Regions from separate parts of the Homo sapiens genome. Here regions 2 and 3 are each linked to region 1. Evidence: fine-mapped expression QTL. A gene starts in region 1. Each other region holds a variant in brackets. All regions are shown on one strand. Distances are from middle to middle. Region 1 holds the start of CDC42BPG (CDC42 binding protein kinase gamma). Region 2 holds the start of GPHA2 (glycoprotein hormone subunit alpha 2). Region 3 has its middle 6.1 kb from the start of SCYL1.

Evidence for each region. PIP is the estimated chance that this variant, and not a neighbour inherited with it, causes the effect.
Region 2: its variant is the best candidate, but not a certain one, in a credible set for the expression of CDC42BPG in whole blood (INTERVAL, PIP 0.79).
Region 3: its variant is the best candidate, but not a certain one, in a credible set for the expression of CDC42BPG in whole blood (TOPMed, PIP 0.65).

The regions. Positions count from the first base shown.
Region 1 is chr11:64,841,241-64,848,709 of GRCh38, reverse strand. It overlaps CDC42BPG (CDC42 binding protein kinase gamma), which reads left to right and starts at 4,057. Exons shown (of 37, transcript NM_017525.3): 1 at 4,057-4,300; 2 at 6,806-6,897; 3 at 6,977-7,060. The coding sequence starts at 4,141. RefSeq lists enhancers at 1,102-1,171, 4,582-5,394, 5,419-5,713, 6,207-7,019 and silencers at 1,472-1,561, 3,878-4,227, 4,238-4,287, 4,318-4,367.
Region 2 is chr11:64,930,958-64,938,335 of GRCh38, reverse strand. It overlaps PPP2R5B (protein phosphatase 2 regulatory subunit B'beta), which reads right to left. Exons shown (of 14, transcript NM_006244.4): 9 at 6,847-6,900; 10 at 6,727-6,777; 11 at 6,468-6,587; 12 at 5,444-5,571; 13 at 5,090-5,191; 14 at 3,861-4,639. The coding sequence ends at 4,492. It overlaps GPHA2 (glycoprotein hormone subunit alpha 2), which reads left to right and starts at 2,443. Exons shown (of 4, transcript NM_130769.4): 1 at 2,443-2,502; 2 at 2,876-2,978; 3 at 3,161-3,345; 4 at 3,462-3,865. The coding sequence starts at 2,876. The coding sequence ends at 3,563. MAJIN (membrane anchored junction protein) reads left to right here. Exons shown (of 11, transcript NM_001037225.3): 11 at 1-106. The variant G/A (reference allele first, on the strand shown) is at 4,513.
Region 3 is chr11:65,515,271-65,522,739 of GRCh38, reverse strand. No RefSeq gene overlaps it. Among named protein-coding and RNA genes, the nearest start is that of SCYL1, 6.1 kb to the left of the region's middle. The variant A/G (reference allele first, on the strand shown) is at 3,183.

The DNA.
Region 1 (7,469 bases):
AAGTCACTTTAAGTTACCAAGAGGCCCCTTACACTTGCAAGCTGTTATCAGCATGAGTGCTCCCCACAGAGCTGGGTGAGAGAGCTAGTGATGTCCCTCAGTACCAAGGGGCTTGCGGGATGAGTGAGAGGCTGCGGGGGGTAGCTGAGCCCTCCTGCACCTGGGGAGTAGTCGACCATGGAGGAGGCATTTGAATGAAGGTACCCTGGTGAGAAGGAAAGGAAAGAGGGTGGCCTGACTGCCTGGACAGGGTGTGACTGAGGCTCTCGGGGGTGTCTCCTGTCAAGACTCACCCATCCCTGTGAGCTGGGCCTTGGGCTGTGCCATGCTCAGGGCTCTGTGGGGAGCGTGTCAAGGCTGCTGTGGCCCTAGTGGTCTGGCCCCACAGGATCAGAAAACAGATCTGCTGAGCCAACATGGTGCCATGCCCTGGAGCTGCTTCGGGCAGTCAGGGCTGGAGGCCTGGCTGCTTGCTAAGGCTGGAATAAGCTCAGAAAGAGACTGAGCCTTTACAGACTTCCTTCCATTGGAGCTGCAAAGGAATGAGCAGGGGGCCCAACCCTCCCCCTTTATTTTTATTTATTTATTTATTTTGGAGACATGGTCTCATTCTGTCACCTAGGCTGGAGTGCAGTGGCACAATCTCAGCTCACTGCAAGCTCTGCCTCCCAGGTTCAAGTGATTCTCCTTTCTCAGCCTCCCGAGTAGCTGGGACTGCAGGTGTGTGTCACCATTCCAGGCTAATTTTTGTATTTTTAGTAGAGACAGGGTTTTGCCATGTTGACCAGGCTGGTCTTGAATTCCTGGGCTCAAGTGATCCGCCCACCTTGGCCTCCCGAGTAGCTGGAACTACAGGCTCTCACCACCACACTCAGCTAATTTTTAAGTTCGTTTGTAGAGATGAGGTCTCACTATGTCACCCAGGCTGATCTTGAACTTCTGGGCTCAAGTGATCCTCCCACCTCGGCCTCCCAAAATGCTGGGCTTACAGGCATGAGCCACCATGCCCGGACCCAACCCCCTTTTACAGACAAGGAAATTGAGGCTTACAAGACAGATGTGACAAAAACTAATAAAGGACCAGAAAGAATCACGTGTGAGAGGCGGGAGGTGCCGAATGCCAGTCCCAGCCCTGCCCCGTGCAGCCCTGGCCTCAGCCCTGGGACTCAGTGTCCACTCAGCTATACTGTGTGGGGATGGACAGATGGCTGGGGATGAACCTTTCTGAGAACTTACCAGAGAGGTTAAGGGACTTGCCTGAGGTCACACAGGGAGTGAGGCAGGGCCCAGAGGCCTCACCAGGGGTGTCCACGAGGGGCAGCGGAGGAGAGGCCCATCTTCCCACCCAGGAGCCCTTCCCTATCTCCGGTTCCCTAATGCTGGCTGGAGCGCCTGTCCCTCCTCTGGTCTCTGGCGCCCCCGTGTGGCCTCAGTGAGCAAGCCCCTTCCTACCTCCTGTGGGCTCCACCCCTGCCCCGCCCCTATAAGGAGGGCTCAGAATCTCTCAGGTGAGAGGGATCTGAACTCCTGCCCCCTCCCCCTTCCAGGAGACCAGAGGCAATGAAGGGGATCCCCAGAGTTTGGTTTGAATCCTGGCTCCCCATCCCATTCTGGTTGATTTAGGTAATACACCCAGACTCTGTTTCCCCAAACATTTCTCAGCCCATGGGCCCTGCGTAGCTACAGGGCGGGCCTCTGGGGAGATCACATGGGAGGCAGGGCGAGTCTGAGACCAGCCCCGGGCAATGTAGAGAGACCCCAGCTCTAAAAAAAAAATTAAAAATTAACCAGGCGTGGTGGTGCAGGCTTGCGGTCCCAGCTACTCAGGAGGCTGAGGTGGGAGGATCACTTGAGCCCAGTATGTTGAGGCTGCAGTGAGCTGAGATTGCATCACTGCACTCCAGCCTGGGTGACAGAGCAAGACCCTGTCTCAAAAAAAGGCTGGGTATGGTGGCTCATGCCTGTAATCCCAGCACTTTGGGAGGCCGAGGTGGGCGGATCACCTGAGGTCAGACCAGCTTGGCCAACGTGGCAATATAGTGCAACCCTGTCTCTTTAAAATAAATAAATAAATAAACAAATAATCACATGAAAAACCCTTCGTGGGGAGAAACACCCTGTTTGCTTCAAACATTCATGGAACACCTCCTCCCTCAACCTGATCCTGCCCCCATCTCAGCGAGGTCCCAGTACGAGAGGAGAGGCAAACCCCTAAACAGGTCTTTTAATGAAATAATGTGTTGGCCAGTGGCTACAGCCTGTAATCCCAGCGCTTTGGGAGGCTGAGGCAGGCAGATCACTTGAGTCCAGGAGTTTGAGATCAGCCTAGGCAACATGGCGAAACCCCATCTCTATAAAAAATACAAACATGGCTGGGCCCAGTGACTCACGCATGTAATCCCAGCACTTTGGGAGGCCGAGGCAGAAGGATCACCTGAAGTCAGGAGTTTGAGATCAGCCTGGCCAACATGGCAAAACCCTATCTCTACTAAAAATACAAAAATTAGCTGGGTGTGGTGGCACATGCCTATAATCCCAGCTACTTGGGAGGCTGAGGCAGGAGACTCTCTTGAACCTGGGAGGCAGAGGTTGCAGTGAGCCGAGATCGTGCCACTGCACTCTGGCCTGGGTGACAGCGTGAGACACCATCTCAAAAAACAAAACATCAGCCTGGCCTAGTGGTGTGAGCCTGTAGTCTCAGCTATTCGGGAGGCTGAGGTGGGAGGATCACTTGAACCCAGGAGGTTGAGGCTGTGGTGAGCTACGATTGCACCACTGCACTCCAGCCTAGGGGACAGAGTGAGACCCTGTCTCAAAAAAGAGAAAGAAGTGTTGTCTAGGCCGGGTGTAGTTGCCCATGTCTGTAATCCCAGAACTCCGGGAGGCCAAGGTGGGAGGATTACCTGAGCCCAGGAGTTCGAGACCAGCCTGGTCAACATAACAATAACCCTTGACTCCAAAAAGTAAAATAAAAAATCAGCTGGGTGTGGTGGCATCTGCCTGTAATCCCAGCTACTCAAGAGGCTGAGGCAGGAGCCTAAGAGGTCAAGGCTGCAGTGAGTTATGATTGCATCACTGCACTCCAGCATGGGTGACAGAGAGACCCTGTCTCAAAAAAAAAAAAAAAAAAGTGTTGTCTGAAGCCACCAATATGTCCCACCCTTTGATCTCTCCTCATGGTGCCTGGTCCATCCCAGCTGGACAGAAATCAGAAATACCACTGGACAGAGCCAGCCCCTCCCCTCCCCAACCTCCTCCAGCCTATCTCAGACCTCTCCTTGCCCTTCACGTTCCAGGTCAGACCTCAGGCCCTGCTCCTACTGAAGCTTAAAACGCCTGTGGTGTTGGTACCAGCCCAGCTCCACCTCCACCCCAGGGTCTAACTTAAGAGCCACCTTGTCCTCAGCCCCTCAATTCGCCTTCCTCCTTCCCAAGCCTCAGTGTGTCCATCTGCCAAATGGGCGTGACCATCCCTACCCCAACTTCCTGTCTCCCACATCAACTCTAATGATACAATCAAAGTAAGATTCAGAAACTTTTTTTTGGGCGGGGGCGGGGGGGCGATGGGTGCCAAGCGCGGGCAAACCATGGAGAGAGCGAACTACAATTCCCATCCGGCTCCGGGGCCGCGGGCGTCCCTAGCCCCTCTCTCTTAGCCAAGGGCAAGGCGGCTGCGACCCAGGGGGCGAGAGAAGTTGCAGTGCTCCGCGCCTCCTGGGTCAGGGCCCAGGGAGGGCCCAGGTAAGTCTGGGTCTGGGGCCGCGCGGGGATCTGGGGAGTCTTTCCGACCCCGCAGAACCCCACCGCGCCCCGCGCAGAAGTCAGTTGTTCTCCCCGGCCCGCCCCCGCACTTCCTGGCCGGGAGTTGGGCCCGCCCCCGCGCGCCTCCGCCCCCACCTTCACCTCTAGCCGCGGCTCCCATTGGCCGGCGCGCACCTGCCCGTCCGTCGGGGGGCGGGGCGCGGCGCCCAGGTGAGGGCGCGCTGGCGGCGGCGGAGGAAGGTGACAGCGGGGAGGGCGGGAGAGGGGCGGGGGAGGACGCGCGGACAGAGCCTCAGACGGTTGGGCGGACGGACGGCCCGACAGGCGGGCATGCGGGCGGCCAGACTGTAGCCGAGCAGCGAGGCTCCGGCCGCAGCCATGGAGCGGCGGCTGCGCGCGCTGGAGCAGCTGGCGCGGGGCGAGGCCGGCGGCTGCCCGGGGCTCGACGGCCTCCTAGATCTGCTGCTGGCGCTGCACCACGAGCTCAGCAGCGGCCCCCTACGGCGGGAGCGCAGCGTGGCGCAGTTCCTGAGCTGGGGTGAGTGGCGGGGCGGCACGGAGCGGGGGCGGGCCTAGGGATATCGCGCCGAGACCCCCGCACCCGCAGACTTTCCCGCAGGGACCCGCACCCCCACGGGCTTCCCTCGCAGACTCCCTGCAGTGGCCCTGACGCGTACCACCGGACCCCCGCGGCCCGCACACTCGCCTGCACACCTCACCCTCACTCCAATTCTCACACACGCTCTCTCCCTCTCACAGACCCCGACACATGCACACACATACCAACTTGTGCTCAGGTATCGACCGCAGACGCATGTACCCAGTGCACCGCCTAGAGTCCCTTACAGATTTCCTTGCTTACAGGCCACACCTGACGCAGGACACACACAGACCCTCATGCATGTCACCCACTGATACACGGGCTCTGTTTCTCCTTCCTCTCGGATGCATTGAGACACACAACTCATGGAGAGACCCAGGGAGCGCTGCAGACCACCCCGACCGCATTGGCACTGCAAAACACACAGATCTGTAGGTATCGCACACTTGCAGACCTTCCCCCCACCAACACACACACCCCCAGCTCCCTGGGTACAAGACCACTGCAGCCTGGACTCAGGAACCGATCTCCAACCCTTGGCCTGTGCAGGCTGCTGGCCAAGCTCCTTGGGGGCTGTGGCGCCGGGGCCGGGGAGGGGGGCCTAGCTGGAGATGGGTCTGTACCTTTCCTGGTAGACTCATCTGAGTCATTGGGAGTGGCTGGCCCGGGGTGACCCTGAACCCACTGTGGGCACTGGCGCCAGCTGGAGGGTTCCCTGGTCACACCCTGCCGGGCCATGGGGAAAAGGCACGGGGGCCTGGCCAGGGCGGGGTGAGGCAGGTGTTTGCCCAGTGGGCAACTAGCGTTCCTGGCACTCCTGAGCTCTGGGAAGGCACAAGGCCTGGGGTAGAGGGGGAGGCTGCCACCTAGATGTGCCAGGGAGTTGTCCCCTAGCCCCAACCCTTCCATCCAGGGCGAGGCAGTCAGAGGCCCCTGCCTCTGTGCCTGTCTCCCTGGTATGCCTCCGTGCTATGCCTGTCTGCCTGTGTTGTTGTCACCCCCCCCATGACACCCACACACGTGTGTGTGTTTGCACACACATGTGTGCTCCTCCCTGACTGCCTCCAGCACCTCTGCCTGGGACCCCGGCATGGGGGCCCTCTGTTGACAATCTCCCAAGGTAACTCAAAGGGCTGTGACTCATTCCTCTCCTGCTTGTCTCTACTTGTCCCTGCTCCTGCCCGGAGCCCCCATGCCCTGTGGGAGGCCAGAGGATTAGGCAGCCTGTCCAGGGGCCTGGATCCTCCTGCCTGTGGGCCTGGGCTTCGGCCCTCTTCTGGCGGGTGGGTCCCTATGGTGCTGGCTTCAACTCCCACGGGGAGGCCCGGGGCTGCTCCTCCCCAGCTCCACACACAGACCTGGGAAAGAGACAATGAATTTCTGTAATGAGGTTTCCACCCCGCCCCCGCTGCGGGCTTCTGCCTGATAAACCTGTGGAACAGCTCTCTGTCCCACCCACAGACCCGCCCAGCTGGCAGGGAGTTTACCTCCTGGCAGGGGGAAACTGAGGCAGGGCGCCAGACCACAGCTGCCCCCCATCCTGACTGATCACTCCTGCCTCCCTAAGACCCAATTCCTTCCCAAAACCTGGGGCTAATCCAGGCCTGGAAAGTGCCTGGGAGTGGCTGGAGTTGCCCTTCCTGGAGGTATCTGGGATGTGAGGAAAGAGGACGTTCTTGACCAGACAAAAGCTTCGTCCAGACAGGGAGGCAGGGCTGGGAGTGAGAGAGCCGGTCAGGCCTGGAGGCATCCTGAGCACTCACGCCTTCAGGGGCTAGTGCTAGCACCAGGGAAAGGCATCTTTGTCCTGTTTGTGAGTCTCAGCACCTTGGCAGACTGGCATCCATGCCTCCAGCCTGAGGGGCCCCACGTGGGAAGCATAGAGCCTGTCCTCCCTGCCCTAGGGGCTGCAGGCCTCACCCCCAACCAGGCACCTCTATGCCTACAGGGTCCCGGGACCCAGGCCCACAGCTCCTGAATGGGAGAGAAGCCTCTCTGGGGATAAGGAATGTCACCCGTCCAGTTTCCTAAGACAGGCCCTGGCCTGAACCTGTGAGGGGGCCAAGAACTGTGAGGTGGGGGTAGGAATGGTGTCCCCATGGTCCCCAGGGTGACCTGGCCAAGCAGAGTCAGGCCGCAGACTGGGCAGGACTACAAGTCCCATCAGCCCCTGGGATGGAGGCTGCCTAGAGTCTGGGGCCAGGGGTCCAGGGAGGTCCAGGGACCAGGCGGTCAGCTGAGCCCGGCCTCTGACCTTCCGCACTTCCTGATCATGGCCAAAGGAGCACCAGTTCCTGCCACAACCCCTTGGCCCGAGGCTGTCCCTGGGGAGGTCATCCCTGCCTGGGCTCACAGGAGCGGCAGCTCCTGGCTTGCCCAAGGTGAGAGGGGGAATGGAGCCCTCCCTCCCTGCACTCTGAGTCCCGCCCTGTGTCCCCTCAGCCAGCCCCTTCGTATCAAAGGTGAAAGAACTGCGTCTGCAGAGAGATGACTTTGAGATCTTGAAGGTGATCGGCCGAGGAGCCTTTGGGGAGGTGAGCAAAGGGCCTGGGGTAGGTGGGGGGAGGTGTTCACACCGGGCTGGGCTCACCCCGGTCCTCCCTGTGGCCTTAGGTCACCGTGGTGAGGCAGAGGGACACTGGGCAGATTTTTGCCATGAAAATGCTGCACAAGTGGGAGATGCTGAAGAGGGCTGAGGTCAGTGTGGAGTCTGGGGGGCCCTTGGGCACCCTACAAATGGGTGTGGGGGAGGTGTATGCTGCCAGGGCCTATGGCGCGGGGGGGGCGGGCAAGGCTGCAGACCAGGCAAAGGGTGCCACCCTCAGCAGCCACTGATTTGTTATCTTTCTCACAATAAACCCTTTATTTAATTTTTTAAATTTTTTTTTTTTTTTTGAGACGGAATCTTGCTCTGTCAACTAGGCTGGAGTTCAACGGTGCTATCTTGGCTCACTGCAACCTCCGCCTCCCAGTTCAAGTAATTCTCCTGCCTCAGCCTCCCGAGTAGCTGGGATTACAGGCACCTGCCACCACACCCAGCTAATTTTTGTATTTTTAGTAGAGATGAGGTTTTGCTATGTTGGACAGGCTGGTCTCGAACTCCTGA
Region 2 (7,378 bases), 90 kb before region 1:
ATTAAGAATGGAACTTTCTAAAATGTTCATGTCCTGAGGGCCGGTTTAGGCCTTTTGTCTTCGGCACTTAGGATCCTAATGACAATAAATTATTTATGAAGAGTTATTGATTGAATTTAGTGGAATAGAGTAAAAGAGAACAAATGCTTCCCTCAAGATACAGAGAAAATGCATGAAACTTCCCTAGGTCTACCTGGTTACTATTCACAGGATCACTTTGGGTAGGTGAGTTTGTGCCAGAGGTTAGGGAATGGGGTCTTTCAAGACTCACTGTCCTGAGCCCTGCTCACCCAAGAGACCTCTTCCCCAGTTCCAGTTTGGCCCCAAATGGTTGCCTCTCCATAGACAAAATGTTTCCCACCTCTCTATCCCTTTAACTGTTTGACAGTAATGCAGATTCGTTTATCAGATTAACTGGAAGTCAATCCAGGTTGGCACCCCTGGAGAAGGCCTGGCCACCTGAGCTGCCTTCAACTAAAGGACTGATCTGTAATAGACACTTTAGCCTCATGTGGCCGTGGAGAACCAAAATGATCTATGGAAATGTAGGGAAACTCATTTTAGCTCACAACAAAGGAGTCACTTTTTACCTGTTAGAGATGTCCAATATTAGAATGGGCTACCTCATAAGGTAATGAGCCTTGTCACCCAAATGCTTTAAACAGAAGCCATCATCTGTCACATGCCAGAGGGTGCCCCTCAAGAGTGGGAGAGCAGGGGCTGAACTGCTGAGTTCCCGCTGCGTCCTGTTGCTATGCTGCCTGCACCCTTGGTGGGGAGAAGAGAAGAGGTGGACTGCTGCGGAGGACCTGGCAAACAAGGACCCAGGTCTTGAGGGGATGGGGGCTGATGGGGAAACCGTAGGGTGTGGGAATTTAAGGATTAGTGACATTAGTAACATCACTTCCTCTCAAATTGCGTTTACAGCCTTTACTCGACTGTCCCAAACATGGCCTGTTTTACAAAGCTGCTAAGAAGCACAGCTCCAAATCTGGAGCTGTGAGTGCCCGCCCTGACTCTGACTAGCTTACAGTGAAGCTTTGGGAAGTTGTTTTCCGCTGAGCTCTTATTTTCTCATCCAGAAAATGAGGGGGTAGGATTTGGTGAGTTATAAAGTGCCTTCTAGCTCTAGCAGTCTGTGACTGGCCCTGCTCTTTCTGAGCAGATCAGTGAGGCAATGACCCCAAAGCGGGGCTGCCCAGAATCACCACAGGCTTCCTTTGGCTCTCCACCTTGCCCCAACCCCTCTGGCCACTGCTGCCTGGGGGTCTTTCTCCAGCTTGCCACATTCTTGCTCAAGTGTAGTTTAGCACCATGGATGGACAGCAGATTTGAATTTGAAATCAGCCCTAACATTAACTAGCTGGGTGACTTTTAGTAACTTTCTTTCTTTGAGCCTTAGTTGCCTCATCTATAAAACCAGAGTTGGACAAATAGATCAGCTTTGCTGGGGTTGATAACTTCAGGCCCTTTCAGGAGTCAGGTCCCTGTTATTCCAGGGCTAGGGGAGCACTCCAGCTCAGAACGTTACTCTGTAGCACAGGATGCGAATCATCCACTGATACCGTGGCCATGCAACTCTGAAACAGACAGCAACCCCCAAACCCCCGGCCCTGCCACCAAGCACATCTCAGGAGACCTCCACTGGTATAATTTCCCTTGTCCCTAAGAATCTCCTTCCCCAATCCCTTTCCTTTGCAGTTAGAAAAAGGCAAGCAGGACTGAGTTTAGTGGTTTTAAAATTAGGGGTGTGGCCAGGCACAGTGTCTCATGCCTGTAATTCTAGCACTTTGGGAGGCCTAAGCAGGCGGATCACTTGAGCTTAGCAGTTCAAGACCACCATGGGCAACATGGCAAAATCCTGTCTCTACAAAAAAATACAAAAGTTAGCTGGTCATAGTGGTGTGCCTGTGGTCCCAGCTACTCAGGAGGCTAAGGGGGAGGATGGCTTGAGTCTGGGAGGCTGGGAGGTGGAGGTTGCAGTGAGCCGAGATAACACCACCACACTCCAGCCTAGGTGACAGAGCCAGACCCTCTCAAAATAATAGTAATAAATAATAATAAAGTTAGGGGTGATCAGGCCCTGAACAGGGAAATGTTCTGTCCAAGGTCACAGAGCAAAGAGAACCCAGGTGTCCACAACTCAGCCAAGAGTCTTGACCCCTGTGTCGTCAGCTGCACACACGCTGCACACTCCACCAGCTCCTAGGCTTCTCTCCACATCTGACTTATCGAGGCCTGGGCTGTGGGTAGCTTTTTGGACAGAAAGAAGCAGAAAGCAGCAGGAGCTGCTCTCCGAGGACCGCACCTCAAAGAGCAAGATCCCCCAGGTGGGATCGCTCTGAGGCTTCAGGCAGGGGAGGCTGGTTTGAAAGCCGATCTCCAAGAGGGCGTGGCTCCAAAATGCTGGCAAATAAAAGCCTGGAGAGCCAGCACCAAGCTGGAGACCAGCAGGAGGCACAGGAAAACTGCAAGCCGCTCTGTTCCTGGGCCTCGGAAGTGGTGAGCTCGCTGAGGCAGGAGGAGCTCTGGGGAGGGTCTGGGAATGTGGACGAGGGCCCTGCAGGCCAAGATGGGGCAGATGGAGGGAGGAAGATGTTTGCGCTCCAGATGGCGAAGAAAATTCCAGGGAAGGGAGAATCACTGCACAGAGGGCTGACACACAGGTCCTTTCCAGAGACAGCTGCTCACACTCACACCCATACACACACACACACACACACAAAGGCAGATACAGGGAAAAGGCAGCACCATTCAGGCACACCTCACCTGTCAGACCAGCCAGCCCTGGCTCACTCACCTGGAATGCAGTATTTAAAGAACTCGCCATCCCACCTGCACACCCACGTAGAGACATCTCCCCACTGTGTTTCAGATGCCTATGGCGTCCCCTCAAACCCTGGTCCTCTATCTGCTGGTCCTGGCAGTCACTGAAGCCTGGGGCCAGGAGGCAGTCATCCCAGGCTGCCACTTGCACCGTGAGTACCTCTGGGACCGGAGGGCTAGGAGCAGTGGAGGTTCTGGGTGGGAGCAAAGAGCTGAGTGGACGGTGGGGCAGGCAGCACCCTAAAGGGCCCCACACTGAGGCACAGGCAACGGGAGCTGGGGCGAGGCAAACCTTGGCAGAGGCGCCGTCTACTGCTTGCCTATCTCCTTCTAGCCTTCAATGTGACAGTGCGAAGTGACCGCCAAGGCACCTGCCAGGGCTCCCACGTGGCACAGGCCTGTGTGGGCCACTGTGAGTCCAGCGCCTTCCCTTCTCGGTACTCTGTGCTGGTGGCCAGTGGTTACCGACACAACATCACCTCCGTCTCTCAGTGCTGCACCATCAGTGGCCTGAAGAAGGTGAGGAGGGCCCGGGCCCGGTGGATGGACGCTGGGGTCGCGGGAAGACCAGAGAGATGGAGATCCTAGACAGCCCTGAGAAAGGGGACTGCAGCACGGACTCCCCTCTCCCGCAGGTCAAAGTACAGCTGCAGTGTGTGGGGAGCCGGAGGGAGGAGCTCGAGATCTTCACGGCCAGGGCCTGCCAGTGTGACATGTGTCGCCTCTCTCGCTACTAGCCCATCCTCTCCCCTCCTTCCTCCCCTGGGTCACAGGGCTTGACGTTCTGGTGGGGGAAACCTGTGTTCAAGATTCAAAAACTGGAAGGAGCTCCAGCCCTGATGGTTACTTGCTATGGAATTTTTTTAAATAAGGGGAGGGTTGTTCCAGCTTTGATCCTTTGTAAGATTTTGTGACTGTCACCTGAGAAGAGGGGAGTTTCTGCTTCTTCCCTGCCTCTGCCTGGCCCTTCTAAACCAATCTTTCATCATTTTACTTCCCTCTTTGCCCTTACCCCTAAATAAAGCAAGCAGTTCTTGAATTTCTCTCTTTATTAAGTCTACCCCCAGCCACGGAAAGAGGAGTAGACCATGATTACTGTGAACCCCCCCTTACCCCAGGACACTGTGAATCTCTTCTTGCCTGTGCCCTCCCCCTCCCCCTGCCCAATAAATAAAAAGGGGACAAGGAAGTACACAGCGAGGGAAGGGAGGAGTGTGCACCCAGGACAGTGTCTGTGTAGAGGGTGAGCTGGGCGAGAATAAATAGACCATGGACCCCATGGTGGGGATAAGGAAGGACCTCGCATTGGCCAAGGCAGGGGCAGGCGAGGCGCTGAGTGCCCTTGCCCAAGGCCAGGAGCAGAGGGTGGGAGCCCGCCTGCAGCTGGAGCCTAGCTTTGCGGGGCAGGGGAAGATCCCTGATGGCAGCTTCCTGGTCAAGCTTGCCCTTGTCAAGTCCTGCCACGAGGGGCTGAGCATTCTGTTGCCAAGACCACCATTGCCTCTCCTCGTCTCCCCCCAGTGAAAGCTGGGCTGGGCAGGGAGTCCTCAGAAGCCACTCTGGCAAGGCCAGGGGTAGGTGTGTTTCTCTCTGGGCCCCTGGACAGGAGAAGGGATAGAGGGACTGACAGCTCTGGGTTTAGCTTTTCCCCTTCTGAGGTGCTGTCTAGCTCTGACCCCCACTGGC[G/A]GCCACCTGGGGTGTAAGCCGCTGGAGGGGGGCCTCCTTGGCCCCCTGGGTCCCCTGTAGCCGGCGTAGCCGCAGCTCCTCCAGACCTTGCCATAACTCCTGACGCTCCTGGGCCTTCTGCTGCTCCCTGGGGAGAGAGGGTGAGGCAGCTCCCTTTCCTGGGGCCCCCCACAGTCCAGACTCCCTCACAGTCCAGACTCCCTCACTACCACCCCACCGGCAAAGGGAAGGCATGGAACCATTTTTGTTCTGTGACTCCATAAAAACCCTCTACTGAGGGAAGAGAGCAGAGGACAGACAGATCCCAGCCTGCAGTCACAGAGAAGATGACGGGTGGGGCCTGAGTGGTTCTGGCTTCTGTAGGAAGCTACAGGGAGTCAGAACAAGTCTGAGCTACTCGAAGAATGACGGGAGGATACAGGGGCAGACAGTCAGGCATAGGATGGCAGGAGCATGGACAGTCTTGCAGCATCTGATCAGACAGAGTTTGGGGTAGTCCTCGGGTTCCCTCCAGCCATGGGGGTCTGACTCCTCCCTGCTCTTCTCCCTTCCCCCACGCCCAGCCCCCAACACTCACTGCTGCTTTTCCAGCTTGTAGGAGGCTGTGAGCTCATCAAACAGCTTCCCATTCATCTCCATGAAGGTCTTGAGCACATTGTAGATCAGTGATACGATGGTTCTTGGCAGTGTCAAGGAGGGATGAGGAGATGAAACAGCTTTGGTTTGCCCACCTCTCCCTTTCCCTGCCCTTCACATACAGCATTCCACCTGAACACAAGCACTGCCCACTTTCCTGTCCTTTTCACCACCCCTGGGCCATCTTTTGATGCTTTCTCTGATATTCTCCAGCTAGGAGTAACCCTGGGGTCGGGTCTGGACTGGCTGGCCCTGGTCCCAGTTTCTGTGAGTTAGGTCATGGCCTGGCACTCACTGGTTCCAGTGCTCCTTGGAGACTTGGTAGAGGGTCCCAAACACAGCAGGCAGCACAGTGTGGCAGTTGTCCTCAATGAGGCTTAGGATATACTCATTGTTCCAGAAATACAGAGCCCGCTCTGCAACCTGGGGCAGACAAGATGGCAGAGTGATTAACTGGCAGTGGCTTCTCTCTGTGTGCAAGGTCTGGTGTCCATCACTACCTCAACGCCCAGGCCCCCTGACCTTCACACACCCCACCTTCAGGGCTTATCTGAGCCCTGGAGGAAGCAACAGTGTTGAAGGGAAAAGAGTTCTAGATACGGAATCCAATGCTGCGGGGTGAATCCTAACCACTACAGACTCTACTATGCCATGTGACCTTGGGAGAGGCATTTAACCTCCCAGCCTCAGTTTTCTCATCTGTAAAATGGGCTAATAATACCTATCTCAACAGGATGTTATAAGAATCAAATGAGATACTAGACTTTTAGGTGTTTAATGAACCGAAGTGCCAGAATCACTGTGAGGAAGACTTGACTTCCACTGGGTTATGGCCCATAAGAACGGGAGGAAGTCTGCACATGCTTGCAGCAGAACATGAGTTAGTTAGCTGGGTTGGTGCGGGGAAGCCTGGCTGCATCCCAAAGCGAGTCTAATGAAATCTAAGGCCACTAGCAAAAGGGGAAAAGTGATAACAGTCCTCCATCACATTCTGGATCACACTTCAGTTTACCAAACATGTTTACACTCACAATCTCTTCCATCCTTATCCCCACCCTGTGAAGAGGTTGTTGGCCCATTTTACAGCTGCGGAAGCTTAATCAGAATCAGAGTGGTGCAGTGATTTGCTCAAGGCCCCTCAGCCAGTGGAAGGCAGGTCCGAGGCTTCACCCTAGGTCTCCTGACCCTAAGTCCAGCATCTCCCCATTACCAGACCCGGGATTGGAGGAGAAACTGAGGGCAAAGGGAGCTTTATTAGGTCAGCTACCCAACCTTTCCAGGCCAGCCCTGCTCCCATCCCCGCCTGTCCTGCCTCATACCTGGAAATGGGGGCTGGAAACACAGCGAGCCACCTGCTTAAAAAGGGGCTCCTGGATCTTCACAAACTGGGAGGGCTCGATGACATCAAGAATCTCTTCCATCTCCCCCAGAAACATCACCTGGGTGGGTTGGGGAGGGGAGTAGGGACAGAGGGGCAGCAGCTCACATCTCCCCCTACACATACACACACCTGACTGCCTTCTAGAGGCCGAGCCCTCCCAGCCTCCCTCTGGCGGGCATCAAAGCCCTTCTTCATACCTCCTTCTGGGTGCAGGTTTTTGGCCAGTATTTGAGCAGCCCCCGGATCACCTGTGGGAGATGAGACAGGAGTCACGCCTGCAGAGGTGAGAGGCTGCCTTAGCCCCCAGAGGTACTCACGTGCTCTGTCAGAGTGGCATCCTTCTCCAGGAACTGCACCACACAGTATGCCAGCTGCAGGGGGTGACAGGTGGAGGGAAGGAAGACAGGTCAGGAAGGCACCAGGCGCCAAGGACTTGCTGTCCAGGACAGAATGCCAAATACTGCTCACCCACGGCCTGTTACTTTCTTATTCACCAAGCATTTATCACCTGCCTAGGATGTACCAGGCATCACATTCAGTGTGCTGGGAATACAACTCTGATCTCGCGGGGAGTGGGGACAGTCAACAAACTCATCTTTATAAATTTTGCAAAAGGTTCCATAATATGGCTAGTGTGGTGGCTCACGCCTGTAATCCAAGCACTTTGGGAGGCCGAGGCAGCAGAATCACTTGAGCCTGGGAGTTTGAGACCAGCCTAGGTAACATAGCAAGACACTGTCTCTACAAAAAAAAAATTTTTTTTAATTAGCCAGGCATGTGGCACATACATCTGTGGTCCCAGCTACTCGGGAGGCTGAGAAGGGAGGACTGCTTGAGCCCAGCAGGTAG
Region 3 (7,469 bases), 670 kb before region 1:
ACAAACTGTTTCAGTATAAAAAAGAAAATAGTTAGAATAAGAATAGTCATAATACAAATTAGATATAGAGATGGTCATGAACAATTATCAATCATTGTTATAAGCATTATTAATCATTAGCTTTTAATATTACTCTTTGTTGCATTACTAATATAACCTAGGAATAACCGGCGGGTATAGGGTCAGGTGCTGAAGGGACATTGTGAGAAGTGACCTAGAAGGCAAGAGGTGAGCCTTCTGTCACGCCCGCATAAGGGCCTCTTGAGGGCTCTTTGGTCAAGCGGTAACGCCAGTGTCTGGGAAGGCACCCGTTACTTAGCAGACCGCGAAAGGGAGTCTCCTTTCCTTGGAGGAGTCAGGGGACACTCTGCTCCACCAGCTTCTTGTGGAAGGCTGGATATTATCCAGGCCTGCCCGCAGTCATCCAGAAGCCTAAACCCCTCCCTGTGGTGCTGTGCTTCAATGCTCACGCTCTTTGTCCACTTTCATGCTCCTCCCATACTCCTGGTTCGTCTTTGAAATTCGTAGTAGATAGAGGTAGAAGAAATAGTGAAAGTCTTAAAGTCTTTGATCTTTCTTATAAGAGCAGAGAAGAAAACGCTGACGTATGCTGCCTTCTCTCTCTGCTTCGGCTACCTAAAAGGGAAGGGCCCCCTATCCTGTAATCACCTGACCTGCTTCACCTTGTCAATCACTTAGAAGATTCACCCTCCTTACCCTGCCCCCTTGTCTTGTATACAATAAATATCAGCGAGCCCAGCCATTTGGGGCCACTACCGGTCTCCGCGTCTTGATGGTAGTGGTCCCTGGGGCCCAGCTGTTTTCTCTTTATCTCTTTGTCTTGTGTCTTTATTTATTACAATCTCTAGTCTCCACACAGGGGGAGAACACATGCTAAGCCCCGTAGGGCTGGACCCTACACATATGTTGAAACCCCGTCTCTACTAAAAACACAAAAATTAGCCAGGTGTGGTGGTGGGCACCTGTAATCCCAGCTACTGGGAAGGCTGAGGCAGGAGAATCGCTTGAATCTGGGAGGTGGAGGTTGCAGTGAGCCGAGATCGCACCACTGCACTCCAGCCTGGACGACAGAGCGAGACTCCATCTCAAAAAAAAAGTGGGAACTTGGATGGGCACGGTAGCTCACGCCTGTAATCCCAGCACTTTGGGAGGCCGAGGCGGATGGCTCACCTGAGGTCAGGAGTTCAAGACCAGCCTGGCCAACATGGTGAAACCCCGTCTCTACTAAAAATACAAAAATTAGCCAGGCGAGGCCAGGCGCAGTGGCTCACGCCTGTAATCCCAGCACTTTGGGAGGCCGAGGCGGGCGGATCACGAGGTCAGGAGATCGAGACCATCCTGGCTAACACAATGAAACCCCGTCTCTACTAAAAATACAAAAAAAATTAGCCGGGCGTGGTGGCAGGCGACTGTAGTCCCAGCTACTCCAGAGGCTGAGGCAGAAGAATGGCGTGAACCTGGGAGGCGGAGCTTGCAGTGAGCCAAGATCGCACCACTGCACTCCAGCCTGGGCAACAGAGCGAGACTCTGTCTCAAAAAAAAAAAAAAAAAAATTAGCCTGGCGTGGTGGCACATGCCTGTAATCCCAGCTACTCAGGAGGCTGAGGGAGAATTGCTTGAACCTGGGAGGCGGAGGTTGCAGTGAGCCAAGATTGCGCCATTGCACTCCAGCCTGGGGGACAAGAGTGAGACTTCGTCTCAAAAATAAATAAATAAATAAAATAATAAAATAAAATAGTGGGAACTTTAAGCTTAGCTAACAGGGATCCAAATTCTTCAAGAGAAAGTATTTGTTGTTCAGCCCACTGTAAGATATCAAGAGCTACTTGCTAATGGCCCACACTTATTTTGTTGATGACTTATCATAGGAAAACCTTTGGTGTTCTTTCTACTTTATCTTATATTATAACGCATGAAACAGAAAAGCTGCTGTAAACAATGCTGAATCTTATGTAACAGCCAAATTTAATTTTAGAAAGTATTTAAATTGTGCTCTGTCCTAGATCTAAATGTTGAGAATTTTAAAAAAAACAAACGTTTTAACATCTGCCAAAGCATGTAAGAATAACTTCAAGCTGCCGGGCTTGGTGGCTCACGCCTGTAATCCCACCACTTTGGAAGGCCGAGGTGGGTGGATCACGAGGTCAGGAGTTCGAGACCAGCCTGGCCAACGTACTGAAAGCCCGTCTCTACTAAAAATACAAAAATTAGCCGGGCGTGGTGGCATGCGCCTGTAATTCCAGCTACTCTGGAGGCTGAGGCAGGAGAATCGCTTGAACCCGGGAGGCGGAGGTTGCAGTGAGCCGAGATCACGCCACTGCACTCCAGCCTGGGACAGAGGGAGACTCCATCTCAAAAATAAAATAAAATAAAATAAACAATAATAACTCCAAAATTAACATTATTTTGACTTCCTATTATTGTCTTTCCAAAAAATGGCTCTGTGTTTTTTGTTTGTTTTGATTTTTACTTCTTTGTTTGGTTTGGTTTTTTTGTTTGTTTTGTTTTTAGCAAATATGATGCCTAAAAAGTAAACTGTTCAGGGTTCTGGCCTATTGTGGTCGGCAGAATACTAGCCCCTCAAAGATGTCCATGTCCTAACTCTCAGAACCTGTGAATATGGGCCAGGTGCAGTGGCTCACACCTGTAATCCCAGCACTTTGGGAGGCCAAGGCGGGCGGATCACATGAGGTCAAAAGTTTGAGATCAGCCTGGCCATCATGATGAAACCCCTTCTCTACTAAAAATACAAAATTAGCCAGGCATGGTGGCACACACCTATAGTCCCAGCTGCTTGGGAGGCTGAGGCAAGAGAATAGCTTGAACCCTGTAGGTGGAGGTTGCAATGAGCCGATATCATGCCACTGCACTCCAGCCTGGGCGACAGAGTGAGACTCTGTCTCAAAAAAAAATTAAAAACCTACTTACAAAGAAAAGTCTAGGCCCAGATGACTAGTAACTTCTTCACTACTAACTTCTACCAAACATTTAAAGAATTAATACCAATTCTTCACAAACACTTCCAAAAAATGGAAGAGGAAGAGGGAATACTTCCCAACTCATTCTATTAGGCTGGTATCAATAGTACCCTGATAACAAAACCAGATAAAGACATCACAAGAAACTACAGAGCAGGCCAGGCGCAGTGGCTAACACCTGTA[A/G]TCCCATCACTTTGGGAGGCCAAGGCAGGTGGATCACAAGGTCTGGAGATCCAGACCATCCTGGCTAACACGGTGAAACCCTGTCTCTACTAAAAATACAAAAAAAAAAAAAAAAAAAAAAAAAAAATTAGCCAGGCTTGCCTGTAATCCCAGCTACTCAGGAGGCTGAGTCAGGAGAATTCTAGCCGGTGCAGTGGCTCACACCTATAGTCCCAGCACTTGGGAGGCTGAGGTGGTTAGCTTGCTTGAGGCCAGGAGTTTGAGGTCAGCCTAGACAACATAGCAAGACTCAGTCTCTACGAAAAAAATTAGCCCAGCATGGTGGCACATGCTTGTAGTCCCAGCTACTCAGGAGGCTAAGGCAGGAGGATTGCTTGAGCCCACCCAAGAGGTTGAGGTTGCAGTGAGCCGTGAGACATGAGCCATGATTGCGGCACTGCACTCTAGTCTAGGCAACAGAGCAGGAACCTGTGTTTAAAAAAAAAAAAAAAAAAAAAAAAGGCTGGGCGCGGTGGCTCATGCCTGTAATCTTAGCACTTTGGGAGGCCAAGGCAGGCAGATCACCTGAGGTTGGGAGTTCAAGACCAGCCTGACCAACATGGAGAAACCCCGTCTCTATTAAAAATACAAAATTAGCCGGGCATGGTGGCACATGCCTGTAATCCCAGCTACTCGGGAAGGCTGAGGCAGGAGAATTGCTTGAACCTGGGAGGCGGAGGTTGCGGTGAGCTGAGATCGCTCCATTGTACTCCAGCCTGGGCAACAAGAGCAAAACTCTGTCTTAAAAAAAAAAAAAGAAAAGGAAAATTCTATATCATGATTAAATAGGATTTATCCTAGGAATACAAGGTTGGTTTAACATCTGAAAATTAATTAATGTAATACATACTATTAATAGAATAAAAAGCAAAACAAAAAAATACCTGATCATCTCAATAGAAGCAGAAAAAGCAATTAACAAAATCCACCAGTCTTTCCTTTTTTTTTCAGACAGAGTCTCACCTTGTCACCCAGGCTGGAGTGCAGTAGCGCGATCTCAGCTCACTGCAACCTTCACCTCCCGGGTTCAAGCGATTCTCCTGCCTCAGCCTCCCGAGTAGCTGGGATTACAGGCATTCACCACCATACCCAGCTAATTTTTGTATTTTTAGTATAGACGGGGATTCGCCATGTTGGCCAGGCTGGTCTTGAACTCCTGACCTCAGGTAATCTGCTGGCCTTGGCCTCCCAAAGTGCTGGGATTACAGGTATGAGCCACCGGGCCCGGGCCAATCCACCAGTCTTTCACGGTAAAAAGAAAAAAGAAACCAGCCAGGCATGGTGGCACATTCCTGTAGTCTGAACTGGGGCGTGAAGGTCACCTGAACCTGGCCAGGCACAGTGGCTCACACCTGTAATCCCAGCACTTTGGGAAGCCAAAGTGGGCAGAACACATGAGGTCAGGAGTTCAAGAGCAACCAACATGGAGAAACCCCACCTCTACTTAATAAAAAAAAAAAAAATTAGCCAGGCATGGTGGCATGTGCCTGTAATCCCAGCTACTCGGGAAGCTGAGGCAGGACAATCACTTGAACCTGGGAGGCGAGGTTGCAGTGAGTCGAGATCGTGCCATTGCACTCCAGTATGGGCTACAGAGTGAGTCGTCAGGTAAAAAAAAAAAAAAAAAAAAAAAGAATGTTTTCAGATTGTTCGCTGCTATAGTGATTTTTGTATGTTGATCTTGCATCCTACAACCTTGCTGAACTCATTAATTTTAATAGCTTTCAAAGACTCCATAGGATTTTCTGTATACAAGATTATGTCATCTGTGAAGTTTTACTTAGGTGAGCCACCACGTCTGGCTCCATTTTTAATAACATAAAGAAAGAATAAATTACTAGGAATAAATCTAAGAAAAGAAGTTCAGGCCAGGTGCAGCGGCTTATGCCTATAACCCTGGCACTTTGGAGGGCCAAGGCAGGAGAATGGCTTGAGCCCAGGAGTTCAGGACCAGCCTGGGCAATACAGTGAGATCCTATCTCTAAAAAAAAAAAAAAAAAAAAAAAATTAAAAATCAGCTAGTTGTGGTGGTGCATGCCTAAAGTCCCATTTCCTTGGGAGGCCGAGGCAGGTGTATTGCTCGAGTCCAGTAGTTCAGGCTGCAGTGAGCTATGATTACGGTACTGCATTCCAGCCTGGGCAACAGAGCAAGCCATTCCAGATCCTGTCTCAAAACAAAACAAAACTGGCCGGGTGAGGTGGCTCACACCTGTAATCCCAGCACTTTGGGAGGCTGAGGCAGGCAGATCACATGAGGTCAGGAGTTTGAGACCAGCCTGGCCAACACGGCGAAACCTCGTCTCTACTAATAATACAAAAATGAGCTGTGCGTGGTGGCAAGGTGCCTGTAATCCCAGCTACTCAGGAGGCTGAGGCAGGAGAATCGCTTGAACCTGGGAGGCTGATGTTGTGGTGAGCCAAGATCGCGCCACTGCACTCCAGCCTGGGCAACAGAGCCAGACTCTGCCTCAAACAAAACAAAACAAAACAATAACTTTTTAAACATAAAGACATCTTCAAGTGGCAACCACTACCTAAATGCCATTCCCAGCTAAGCTGTCATGAAAACTGAGAGCAAAATAAAGATATTTCAAACAAAGACTCTCAGAATTTCCCACTCAGAAATCAGTTACACCCCCATCGTGGCCCAGACCCCCGCGCAGCCCAGCCTCCTCAAACTGCACGTGGCTAGAACTGAGTGTGATCATCCCCCACCTTGCAGCCAGAATCATCAGTCTCACCATCTGTTCCCCAGGGGCAAGCCCCTAACTCATCTGCTGTCCTAGGGCCTAACTACCCTCCAACCTACCCCAGCTTCTCTCTCTCTCTCTCTCCTCTCTCTCTCTCTCTGTCTCTCTCTCTTTCCTTTCTGTCTCTCTCCTCTCTCTGTCTCTCTCTCTCCTTTCTGTCTCCTCTCTCTCTCTCCTTTCTGTCTCTCTCTCCTCTCTCTCTGTCTCTCTCCTCTGTCTCTCTACTCTCACTCCTCTCTCTCTCCATCTCTCTCTCTCCTTTCTCTCTGCTCTCTCTCTGTCTCTCTCCTGTCTCTCTCCTTGGTCTCTCTCCTCTCTGTCTCTCTTTCTCCTCTCTCTCTCTTTTATCTCTCTCCTATGTCTCTCTCCTCTCTGTCTCTCTCTACTCTCTCTCCTCTCTGTCTTTCCTCTCTCTGTTTCTCTGTCTCCTTTCTCTCTCTCCTCTCTCTGCCTCTCTCTCTCTCTCTGTCGCTCCTCCTCCCCTCCCCTCCCCTCCCCTCCTCTCTCCTCTCCTCTCTCCCCTTCTCCAACTCCTCTCTCAGCCTCCCTTCCAGCCACTCTGGGTTGCAGTGCCCCACATTTCTCACTTTCAAGCTGTTCTCTCTGGAGGAAGGCTGCCCTGGTCTTTTCTATCCAGCAAATTCGTATTCTTTGAATCTCACTCCAAATGTCCCCTGCTCTGTCTAGCCTTCCCTGAATTATTCAGGCAGAAAGCATTGCTTCTAGCCTGGCAAGATGGCTCACACCTGTAATCCTGGCACTTTGGAAGGCTGAGGTGGGAGGATCGCTTGAGCTCAGGAGTTCAAGACCAGCCTCGGCCATAGAGTAGGACCCTCATCTCAACAAAATATCAAAAAATTAGCCAGGCATGGAGGTGTGCACCTGTAGTCCCAGCTACTTTGGAGGCCGAGGAAGAAGGATTGCTTGAGCCCAGGAGGTTGAGGCTGCAGTAAGCCATGATTCAACCACTGCACTCCAGCCTGAGCAACAGGGTGAGACCTTGTCTCAAAATAAAGAAATAAAAATAAATTAATTTAATTAATTTGTTAAAAAGCATTGCTTCTGTGCTTTTCCAGTGCACTTCACAAGAAATGCTCTCAGAGACCAGGCACGGTGGCTCATGCCTGTAATCCCAGCACTTTGGGAAGCTGAGGAAGGAGGATTGCTTGAGCCCAGGAGTTTGAGGCCAGCCTGGGCAACATAGCAAGACCTTGTCTCTATAAAAAAAAAAAAATGCTCTTGGCCATGTGCAGTGGCTCACACCTGTAATCCCAGCACTTTGGGAGGCCAGGGGAGGTGGATAACTTGAGGTCAGGAGTTCGTGACCAGCCTGACCAACAGGGTGAAACCCCGTCTCTACTAAAAATACAAAGATTTGTATATAAATTGAATCATGCAGTATGTATTAATGGCAAAAACTGCAATTACTTTTTTTTGAGACGGAGTCTCACTCTGTCACCCAGGCTTGAGTGCAGGGGTGCAATCATGGCTCACTGCA